Homo sapiens: one gene and its partners. The protein of the gene in region 2 purifies or fractionates together with the protein of the main gene of each other region. This does not show direct contact. Each region holds a gene or a part of one and is shown on either strand. Other genes may lie near its edges.

What was found.
Region 1: the proteins of ALDH18A1 (region 2) and QPRT fractionate together in Homo sapiens (co-fractionation; one large-scale study listed by BioGRID). This does not show direct contact.
Region 3: the proteins of ALDH18A1 (region 2) and BZW1 fractionate together in Homo sapiens (co-fractionation; one large-scale study listed by BioGRID). This does not show direct contact.

The regions. Positions count from the first base shown.
Region 1 is NC_000016.10:29,689,175-29,692,826, reverse strand, and holds part of QPRT (nicotinate-nucleotide pyrophosphorylase [carboxylating]), read right to left. Parts: intron 1-3,652. UniProt on the Homo sapiens protein: Involved in the catabolism of quinolinic acid (QA).
Region 2 is NC_000010.11:95,632,595-95,636,246, forward strand, and holds part of ALDH18A1 (delta-1-pyrroline-5-carboxylate synthase), read right to left. Parts: intron 1,056-3,652; coding exon 897-1,055; intron 456-896; coding exon 365-455; intron 1-364. UniProt on the Homo sapiens protein: Bifunctional enzyme that converts glutamate to glutamate 5-semialdehyde, an intermediate in the biosynthesis of proline, ornithine and arginine.
Region 3 is NC_000002.12:200,818,409-200,822,060, reverse strand, and holds part of BZW1 (eIF5-mimic protein 2), read right to left. Parts: intron 3,307-3,652; coding exon 3,160-3,306; intron 2,080-3,159; coding exon 1,941-2,079; intron 879-1,940; coding exon 756-878; intron 1-755. UniProt on the Homo sapiens protein: Translation initiation regulator which represses repeat-associated non-AUG (RAN) initiated translation probably by acting as a competitive inhibitor of eukaryotic translation initiation factor 5 (EIF5) function.

The DNA of each region.
Region 1 (3,652 bases), on a different chromosome or scaffold from region 2:
CCTCCCAAGTGCTGGGATTACAGGCGTGAGCCACTGCGCCCGGCCTAACCTGATTTATTTATTTATTTGTTTTTTTGAGACGGAGTCTCGCTCTGTCGCCACTGTGGCGCCTGCAGTGGCCTGGCGACTGCAGAGGCGCGATCTCGGCGTCAGCCACCGCATCTAGCCCATGATGTGATTATTATGCATTGCATGCCTTTATCAATGTGCACCCCATAAATATATACACCTACTATATACCCACACTTTTTTTTTTTTTTTGGAGATAGTCTCGTTCTGTTGCAGTGGCGCGATCTCGGCTCACGGCAAGCTCCGCCTCCCGGGTTCACGCCATTCTCCTGCCCCAGCCTCCCGAGTAGCTGGGACTACAGGCGCCCACCACCACGCCTGGCTAATTTTTTTGTGTTTTTAGTAGAGACGGGGTTTCACCGTGTTAGCTGGGATGGTCTCAATCTCCTGACTTCGTGATCCGCCCGCCTCGGCCTCCCAAAGTGCTGGGATTACAGGCGTGAGCCACCGCGCCCGGCCAGTACCCACACTTAAAAAATAAATAAATAAATAAATAAATAAATAAATAAGGATAGTGGACATGGTGAAGGCCCCTCGCGCGGTAGGCATAGCCCGTGATGGGCCCTGCATGGCTGCGGGCAGAGGCAAACCCAGGCGCGGTGCAACAGCGCCATCTATCGGCAGGGAGAAGACCTGCAGCCTAATGGACCCCCGCCATCCGTGGAGTTGGCTTCCCCTTGAGGGGAACACAGAGCCAGCGAGGGTGTTTGATTTAGCGCGCACACACGTGCACGCACACGCACAAGCACGCGCACACAGCACACTTCTGTTCCAAGTGGAAGTGAAGGCCAGACATCCTGGCTTGCTCCGCTCTCCAAAGAGGGCCCTCTCTTGTCTACTTCCCCAAAGCCAAGCTGCTGAGTCTCCACTCACTCACCCCACCTCCCCTCCGAGCCACAAGCCTCCTTGACTGCACCCGGCTCTCCTTCGCCACATTCTCTCCCACATCTGCCCCAGATGGCTCCTGTCCCTCCACTAAGAGCTAGCTATACTGAGGCTGGGCACTGTCTCTGTTGGTCACATCCAGCTACGGAAAAGGCCTGGGAGCAAACGGCAGGGAGGAGAGCCTAATCCCCCACTCCCACTCCATTCAAACTAGGTGCAGTGCAGTGGCACGATCATGGCTCACTGCAGCCTCAACTGCCCAGGCTTAAGCAATCCTCTCGCCTCAGCTTCCCAAGGAACTGGGACTACAGGCGCACACCAACCATGCCCGGCTAATTTTTGTATATTTTTTGTTGTAGAGATGGGGGTCTCACTATATTCCCCAGCCTCGTCTTGAACTCCCAGGCTTAAGCAATCCTCGCACCTCAGCCTCTCAAAGTCCTGGGATTACAGGAGTGAGCCACTGTGCCCACCCTGATTTTTTTTTTTTTTTTTTTTTTTTTTTTTTGATGCAGAGCTTCACTCTTTTGCCCAGGCTGGAGTGAAGTGGCCTGATGTCACCTCACTGCAACCTCCGTCCCGCGGGTTCCAGGGATTCTTCTGCCTCAGCCTCCCAAGTAGCTGGGATTACAGGTGCCCGCCACCACGCCCAGCTAATTTTTGTATTTTTAGTAGAGACAGGGTTTTGCCATTTTGGCCAGGCTGCTCTCAAACTCCTGACCTCAGGTGATCCTCCCGCCTTGGCCTCCCAAAGTGCTGGGATTACAGGCGTGAGCCACCGTGCCTGGCCAGACTGATTTTTTTCTTTTTTTTTCAGGCTGATTTTTTAAAAAATGGATTTGAATTCTGCAACTGGTGAGTATTGGGTAAACAACCTGTGATGCAGGCTGGGCACCATGGCTCACGCCGTAATTCCAGCACTTTGGGAGGCCAAGGTGGGCAGATCACGAGGTCAGGAGTTCAAGACCAGCCTCTCCAACATGGTGAAATCCCATCTCTACGAAAAAATACAAAAACTAGCCGGGCGTGGTGGCATGTGCCTGTAATCCCAGCTACTTGGGAGGCTGAGGCAGGATAATCACTTGAACCAGGGAGGCGGAGTTTGCAGTGAGCTGAGGTCATGCCGCTGCACTCCAGCCTGGACCACAGACTGAGAATCCATCTCAAAAAAAGAAGAAACCAACTACTGATACACACAACAATAGGGACCTGTCTCAAATGTATCAGTCTAACTAAAAGGAGCCAGATCCAAAAGGCCGTATGATCCCATTCCCGCAGCATCCTGGGAAAGGCAAAACTATAGGCACAGAGCAAATCAGCATTGCCTGGGGAGTGGGAGGAGTTGACCACCGAGATCTGGCGAGGTTGCAAAGAAAAAGGATCACTTATACACTGTTGGTGGGAGTGTAAATTAGTTAAACCATCGTGGAGGACAGTGCAGCAATTTCTCAAAGACCAAAAACCAGAAATACCATTCCACCCAGCAATCCCATTACTGGGTATATACCCAAAGGAATGTAAACCATTCTGTTATAAAGACACATCACAGCACTATTCACCATAGGAAAGACATGATTCAACCTAAATGCCCATCAATGCTAGACTGGACAAAGAAAGTGTGGTACACATACACCGTGGAATACTATGCAGCCACAAAAAAGAATGAGATTACGTTCTTTGCAGGGACATGGATGGCGCTGGAGGCCATTATCCTTAGCAAACAAACGCAGGAACAGAAAACCAAATACCGCGTGTTCTCACTTATAAGTGGGAGCTAAATGATGAGAACACATGGACACATAGAGGGGAATAACACATACTGGAGCCTATTGGAGGGCGGAAGTTTGGAGGAGGGCAAGTGTAGCAAGACGAGCTGTGGACAAAACCCCTCAGACACCAAGATAGTGAAGGGAGTGGCTTTAATCAGCTGGGAGCATTGGCAGGCTAGCGTCTTAAAATCCGAGCTCTTCAGGTGCTCAACTTCTGTCCTTTTTAACGGCTCACAACTCTAAGGGGGTCCGCGTGAGAGGGTCGTGATTGAGCAAGCCAGGGGGTACGTGACAGGGGCTGCGAGCACCGGTGGTCAGAGTGAAACAGAACCTAACGGGAGGTTTCACAATGTCCTTCCATACAATGTCTGGAATCTATAGATAACAACAGTTGCTAGGTCAGGGGTCGAATTTTAACTACCAGGCTTAGGTCAGGCACGCCCAGGCCTGATTTCGGGTCTGGTTCCTTGGTTTCCGGTCTGGTTCCTAGGCACCAGGCTACCTGCCTTTAGTTTCGCTTCTCTTTCCTTTTCTGAGTATGAAACAATATGAGAGGGTCTCTCTCTTCCCTCAAGAGGATCAGGAAAAATAACTAATGGGTACTAAACTTAATACCTGGGTGACTAAATAATGTGTACAACCCCCATGACACAAGTTTACCTATATAATAAACCTGCACATGTACCCCTGAACTTAAGATAAAAGTTAAGGCCGGGCATGGTGGCTCATGCCCGTAATCCCAGCACTTTGGGAGGCCAAGGTGGGTTGATCACCTGAGGTCAGGAGTTCAAGACCAGCCTGTCCAACATGGCAAAACCTCATCTCTACTAAAAACACAAAAATTAACCAGCTGTGGTGGCAGGCGCCTGTAATCCCAGCTACTTGGGAGGCTGAGGCAGGAGAATCTCTTGAACCCAGGAGGCAGAGGT
Region 2 (3,652 bases):
CTCAAGTGATCCTCCCGCTTTGGCCTCCCAAAGTGTTGGGATTATAGGTGTGAGCCACCACGCCAGGACAGAATTGTAAACTTCAAATAAGTGAATTGTATGGTATGTGAATTACATCTCCATAAAGCTGTTATTTAAGGAAAACAACTGAAAGCACCTGGAAGTAACATTTCAGGATTCAAATGACATCTCTTAGACTCACCCACCCTGTTTTGAGTCATAAAAGCCCTTTGTCAGAACATATGGCTAATGATCTATAGCAAAAAAACATCAGAGGGACTCAAAGAAAGAGGGAAACTCATGTGCTCACATATGTAGCATTTAAAACAAAGGGCAGATAAAGGAAAAAAGCATTACTTTGTACCTTCTACATCTGAAAGAACAATCAAGAGATCAGTTTTCATTTCCACAGCCAGTCGGGCAGCCAGGCTATCATTATCTTTAACACTAATAACCTAGAATGCAGATTAAAAAGTCATAAGTGAGTGAGCTAAGCAGTCCAAAAAGAAATTCATGGAAGAACACAGCCAAGCTCAGGCAAAACCAAGCTAGGATCAGGCAAAACCAATGAACCCAAATATGTAGATGACGGCTCTTGCAGGCCCCTTCTGTCTGCAGAACACACTGTCTACTGGCAATCCTTTTTCCAAACATGCAGTCTTCTAGCCACTGAAATATACAAGCCATGCTCATCGCACCATCTTCAGTGACTATAGCACCTCACCCTGTTGAATGCAACCACGAGTTCAGAAGAGCTTATGCAGTCACTGCTCCATGACAAGTTTCTCTCACAACTTTTCCATCTTGTTTATGCCAAACTTCTGGTGTTAGTGCATGCAGCATAGCATGGTGTTAGTGTCTCCAGCATGCTAAACCCTTAGAAATACTTTACCCACATTTACCCCCTGCAGGTCACTGTTGGGCTCAGCTGGGGGGACAACAGCATCATTTGTGTTGACAATGGGGACAATGTTCATTCTAAGGAGTTCATGAAGTGTTCCATTGAGGTTCCGGCGCTTCTGCTCATCATGGAAATCCAAATTGGTCACCAAAATCTAAAAGGATTAAATAGATGGAAAATGCATGAGGGAGAAAAACGCTAAACTTCCCAGTATACAAAAGACGCTAAGAGCAGGGGAGTTAAACTTTAGGTTTCTGGGGCCCCACACAGATTAGAAGATTAGAATGAAATACACATATCTGGGTGCTATCCAATTCTTTTTTTTTTTTTTTTTTTTTTGAGACAGGGTCTCATTCTGTCGCTCAGGCCGTAATGCAGTGGCATAATGTCTGCTCACTGCAACCTCCACCTCCTGGGTTCAAGCAGTTCTCATGCCTCAGCTTTCCAAGTAGCTAGGATTACAGGCACACGCAGCTAATTTTTGTATTTTTAGTAGAGACAGGGTTTCGCCATGTTGGCCAGGCTGGTCTCAAACTCCTGGCCTCAAGTGATGGGATTACAGGTGTGATCCACTGCACCTGGCCCCAATTTTTGTAGAGATAAAAAAAATTACAATAATCTGAAAGATTTATTTAAGAATGTTCAAGACTTCTTGCAAAAGTACTTTAATCCTCAAAGAGCTACCAAATTCCAAAATCTCATCCATTTACAAAATTAAGAAAATTAATGTATCTATTTTAGAGGGATACTGGGGGAATCAGTGATTATCCATTAATTTCTTTTCTTTTTTTATAGAGAGGGTCTTACTCTGTTGTCCACGCTGGACTTGAACTCCTACTCTCAAGTGATCCTCCCACCTCAGCCTCCTGAGTAACTGGGACTAAAGATGCACACCGCTGTGCCCCAGCAATTTCTAAAATATCTCTGTATTCTAGGATCTGATTCAGGGCCTGGCCATAGTAGGCCCTTAAATATTTGGTGAGTGAGTGAAAGTGTATTAGACAAAATGGAATAGGGCTGTGTTGTCACTGCTCTTGCTCTAAAGCAGACTATTACTGGAGTTAACTAAGATTGTGTGTGAGCATGTGGGGTTAGTCTGAGAAATTTATGGAAGTTAGTCTTTGGTCACAAGCTGAAAGGGGGGCAGAACACAACTTGGTTCAAGGGAGGAGATGAGCATAAGGTGCTCAAAGGTAGAATGGAGAGCTGGTGTGTGGGCTGGTAAACAGCTCTGCTTTCTAGCTTAAATCAGAATTTTATGCAATGTTTAGGAGAAAAAGATAAATGGGTGAATGGAGATAGCAAGAAACTAAATGGCAACAAACCTTGAGGCTCAACAATAAATAATGCAATCTCTCTAATGTTTACGGAAGAGCGTTCTTGCTGTGTAGGGCAGGATGAGGTAGGGAAAGCTGGAAGCAAATAGTAAAGAAAGCAGGCACTGAAACAGTCAAAGTGAGGATGGTTAAGGGTCTGGCTATGGTAACTGAGAAGAATATAGCAATAAAACAGTAGCCTTAATGGTATATAAAACACAGGAAACATACATATAGAAAAATAATTCACTCACTCGATAAAAAATTTGTTGAGTACCTCTGAAATGCCAGAGTCTAGCTGCTGGAATGGAGAATAAGAATGTTGATGTCTTGGGGAAAAATAAAATGGAGCATATTTTTGAAAGGGAAGATCATGAACTCCTTTTCAGAAAAGCTTAGTGCTGTTGGACACAGGACTAGGTCCAAACTGAACATATAGATTCTAGTCACGATGGTGAAAGATCAAACAATTAATATAAACCCGTGTGTAGGAGAGACAAGCAGGAGATCTAAAGGTCCAGGAAAAATACCTGTCACCAAAATAGCTTCACAAACATGGCCTGGGGATCTCAGCATGAAGGTAGGAGATAAAGAGTCCCAAGAGGGAAAAGTACGTGTTTAGACAAGCGCAATCTGTTGAGGGAAAATCAGTTTCCCTTCTATGAAGAAAAAACAAGCTGTTTTAAGTGTTTAAGTCTTTAACCTGGCAAACCACCTACTGGAAATTTTCAAAAGCCACTGACAATGGTCTTCTATATAGGATTACTGAAGAAAATAAGGAACCACAGGAAAAGGTACAAAGGGCAAATATTTTCTGTAGATATGATGGCCTTGGGGGAAGACACAGGTGTGAGAGGAAAGAGCCCAGGGGTTGAAGCTTGTTGGGAACTGGAGGGGGCAGGGCTCTTCTTTCACTCAATGTAAATGGAAACAATGGCTGATGCTGCATGGACTCTTAATGCTACCATCATTCAAAACAAAATAAAACAAAAACAAACTCTCAAAAGGTTTCATCCCTGGGAAAAACCAAACCAAAGCAAAACCATAGCTCCCTGACTTGAGCTTCCTCACCTGGCTCCAGGCACTTTAAAAAAATTAAAGACCAAAGTTGTCATTGGACTGTGAAGAGAAACCAAATAATAAAGAAGAGTGATATAAATAGAGATTTATACTGTATTTATACTAACAGAAAAAAAGCTAAGACTACAGAAAGTGGGGTCCCCAGCCATAGGCAATGGGACAAGTCCGTGCCTTTCTGTTTTACCTCACTGACTTGAGGACACTCTGGTGTAATACCAGAACATCACTGTGGGTACAAACAGGCAAATGATGGAGAAACAAAAAAAAGTAACAGGAAATGAAGAAGCAAAACCTGAAACAATATATGTATATATAACAATATCACCTGTGTAAAATAACATCTGTGCATGTAGTG
Region 3 (3,652 bases), on a different chromosome or scaffold from region 2:
GTCTCCCTCTGTCCCACAGGCCGGAATGCAGCAGCACCCTCTTGGCTCACTGCAACCTCTGCCTCCCGGGTTCAAGTGATCCTCCCACTTCAGTTTCCCAAGTAGCTGGAACTACAGGCGCCCACCACCAAAACTGGCTAATTTTTTATTTTTAGTAGAGACTGGGTTTCCCATGTTGTCCAGGCTGGCCTCATACTCCTGGCCTCAAATGACCTGATCGCCTCAGCCTCCCAAAGTGCTAGGATTACAGGCGTGAGCCACCACACCCAGCCTCCATGTAACTTTGAAGCTGTTAACGAATTTTATTAATAACCTATTTACATGAGGCAGATATTCAAAAGCATTCACTTGGAAATCCCAACATTTGGCTGGGTGCAATCACATCTGCAATCCCTGTACTTTGTGAGGCTGAGGCAGGAAGGTTGTTTGAGCCCAGGAGTTCAAGACCAGCATCGGCAACATAGTGAGACTCTGTCTCTATATTTTTAATTAAAAAAAAAAAGAAAAGAAATCCACAAATTTATAAACATTAAATATTCTCAAAATTTTCCATTTCATGAAGAACATTTACTATTATGGCTGAGCCATAAATATACTATAATAATTAAACTCTAGCTTTCGCCACCTGCCTTATAACAAAAATCTCTACTCCAGGTACAAAATGGCATCAGAAAGAAGGAAGCATGTGTGAAGATATATTATGGCCACATTAAAATTAGCTTTACCAAACAAACCACACAAAGGAAAATCCTTACCTTCTTCAGCATTTTTGAGCCATTCTACAAACTTTTTCATTTGCTCAAGGAAAACACTCTTCCCCTTTGCAACATGTGCATCTTTATACCACTTCAAAATGGGCTCCTCGCTCAGGACTTCAGCTGGAAAGAAAACTCATTGCATTAAGGGAGTTTTAATATACTCTACTCAGCGTTAGAACCACCACCTAATGTGCAAATGCCTGCTTAGCAAACAAACTGCTGAAAAGCTAAAAACATCCATGAGAAATGGAAGATAATAATACATGTGCGCATACCAACTACACTCAACGGGATCAAGACTGGTCTGATTAGTGCAGAATTTCAAAGTGTTATGACCAACTGCAATGGATTTTCTCCCAACAGAGGTCTTGTCTTTACTAGCCACTTTAGACCAGGTTTCTAAAATTGGGATCAGGAGAAAAGGGAACAATATAACTGAAATTGGGGTTGCTATAGAAGCACTCTGAACTGGTCTTGAAGGACTACGGAAAGTCAACACTGGGTGGGGGAGTAAGATGAACAGAAGCAGGATTCACACAGGCTGAAGACTCCAGAGCTATGACTACATAGCTAAGACTACAGACTGTCTGGAAAAGGGACTTGGGGATTTTTTTTTTTTGAAACAGGGTCTCACTTGTTGCCTAGGCTGCTGGAGTGCAGTGGCACAATCATGGTTCACTGCAGCCTTGACCTCCTAGGCTCAAGTGATCCTCCTACCTCAGCCTTCTGAGTTGCTGGGACTACAGGCTTGCGCCACCATTCCCTGCCTAATTTTTTATTTTTTTTGTAGAGATGAGGTCTCCTTATGCAGTCCAGGCCGGTCTTGAACTCTTGGGCTCAAGCGATCCTCCAGCCTCAGGCTCCCAAAGTGTTGGGGTCACAAGTATGAGCCACCACACCTAGCTGAACTTTGGGAATGTATACCTGGTTAAGAGTATAGGAGGCAAGTTTGAGGACGCATAATGATGGCTTTAGATTTCATACTTCAACTTGTGAATAGGGTTTAGATGTTTTAAACAAGTATCAGTGCACTAAAAAGCACCCAATTTAATCAGAGGTGACTCATAACTAGAAGTAAAATATTTCAGGGAGCTGATGTCCAGATAACTCATCATTTGGATAATTTTGTGTTTATAAGGGTTTTTATTAAGTGTTATTTACAAAATTCAAAATCTAAATTACCTTTATAAAAAAGCACCACTATTTTCTGGAAGGCTTTCATGAAATGAATGTTGTCATAGCAATACTCCTGAATCTTCAGTAACAGAGTCAGCTCAGACTGACCTTGAGTAGTAAAGGCAGCAAGTAGAGGGCTGTATTGCTTTTAAAGGAACAGAGAAAAGATTTAGTCATTCATTACAAATAACCATCCATTACAAAACTCCTACAATACAGACAATATAGAACTTAACTCATCTTTTATAATCACTGCAAACTATAACTTATTTACCAGAAATTTAAAAAATAGGCTGGGCACAGTGGCTCACGTCTGTAATCCCAGCACTTTGGGAGGCCGAGGCGGGTGGATCACTTGAGGTCAGGAGTTCGAGACCAGCCTGGCCAATATGGTAAAAGCTCGTCTCTACTAAAAATACAAAAATTAGCCAGGCACTACTTGGGAGGCCGAGGAGGCAGAACTGCTTGAACCCAGGAGATGGAGGCTGCAGTGAGCTGAGATCACATCACTGCACTCCAGCCTGGGTGACAGAGTGAGACTGTCTCAAGAGAAAAAAAAAAAAGCAGAAAATCTAAGTAGCTAAGTAAAATAAACAATACTATACCAAGTAGTCCAAGTAAATGTCAAACAATATTAGTATTTTAGAGGGGGGGAAAAATTCCTATTTTCCAATACCCCCTTCAAAAGCAAACATCTAATTACAAGCTGAAGTTCCTTTTCATCATGTTCTTTTTTTTGAGGCAGGATCTCACCCTGTCACCCAGGCTTTGTCTGACAAAGCCATCATAAGCTCACTGCAGTCTTGATCTCCAGGGCTCAAGAGATCCTCTGCCTCAGCCTCCTGAGTAGTTGGGACTACAGGCATGCGCCACCACGACTGGCTATTTTTTGTGATTTTTAGTAGAGATGAGGTCTCACTATGTTGCCCAGGCACGTCTTAAACTGAGCTCAAGCAATCCTCCTGCCCTTGCCTCCCAAAGTGCTGGGTTTACAGGCGTGAGCCATTGTGCCTGGCCAGGCCATATTCTTGTTTTTAACCTGTGAACCACAGCCCAATTCAGAGCATTATCATCAATAGCTAATGTTACTATTTGTTTATTTACTGGTGGGCCATCCCTAGGAACCACAGGATGTGATAAATCCTCTTAGAAAAATATAGTCACAGTTCACTTATCACCACGTGAAAGCAGAATAGTTTGTTTTGTCAAGGCATAGTTCTAATACCTTCAAGTGCTTGATGGCTTGCTCTGCTACAAGCTCCTCTTTTTTGTTCCATTCCACAGTGCTCATTACACTTGACCAGACTATTCCGATGACAACTGGCTCTGGGATGTTGTTTTTTTTCATCTCCTCCTTGACATATAAAATTATCTGCAAATGAATCCAAATTTAGTAACAGAAGTCAGTTTTGATTATGTACATACTTCACACATCAAGTTTAGACCTTTAACAAAAACTAACAACTCCTTTTCCATGCAACTGGCAACCACATGTGTACCACATATAAAAAGAGACCTTTACAACTGAAAGGTGCCCTGAGCTCCAGTCTCTTGTATTTCTGGGCCTCAGTCAGGCACTGAAGAAGCATATGCAAAAGAATGAGGCAAAGTTCCAGTATAACATCCTGTTACTATTAACTCAATCTCATCCTGGTGAAGTAAGTTCCTCAAATTAGTGAAAATCTCTATGCCAGAAGCTTAGCCATAAAAAGACGGTT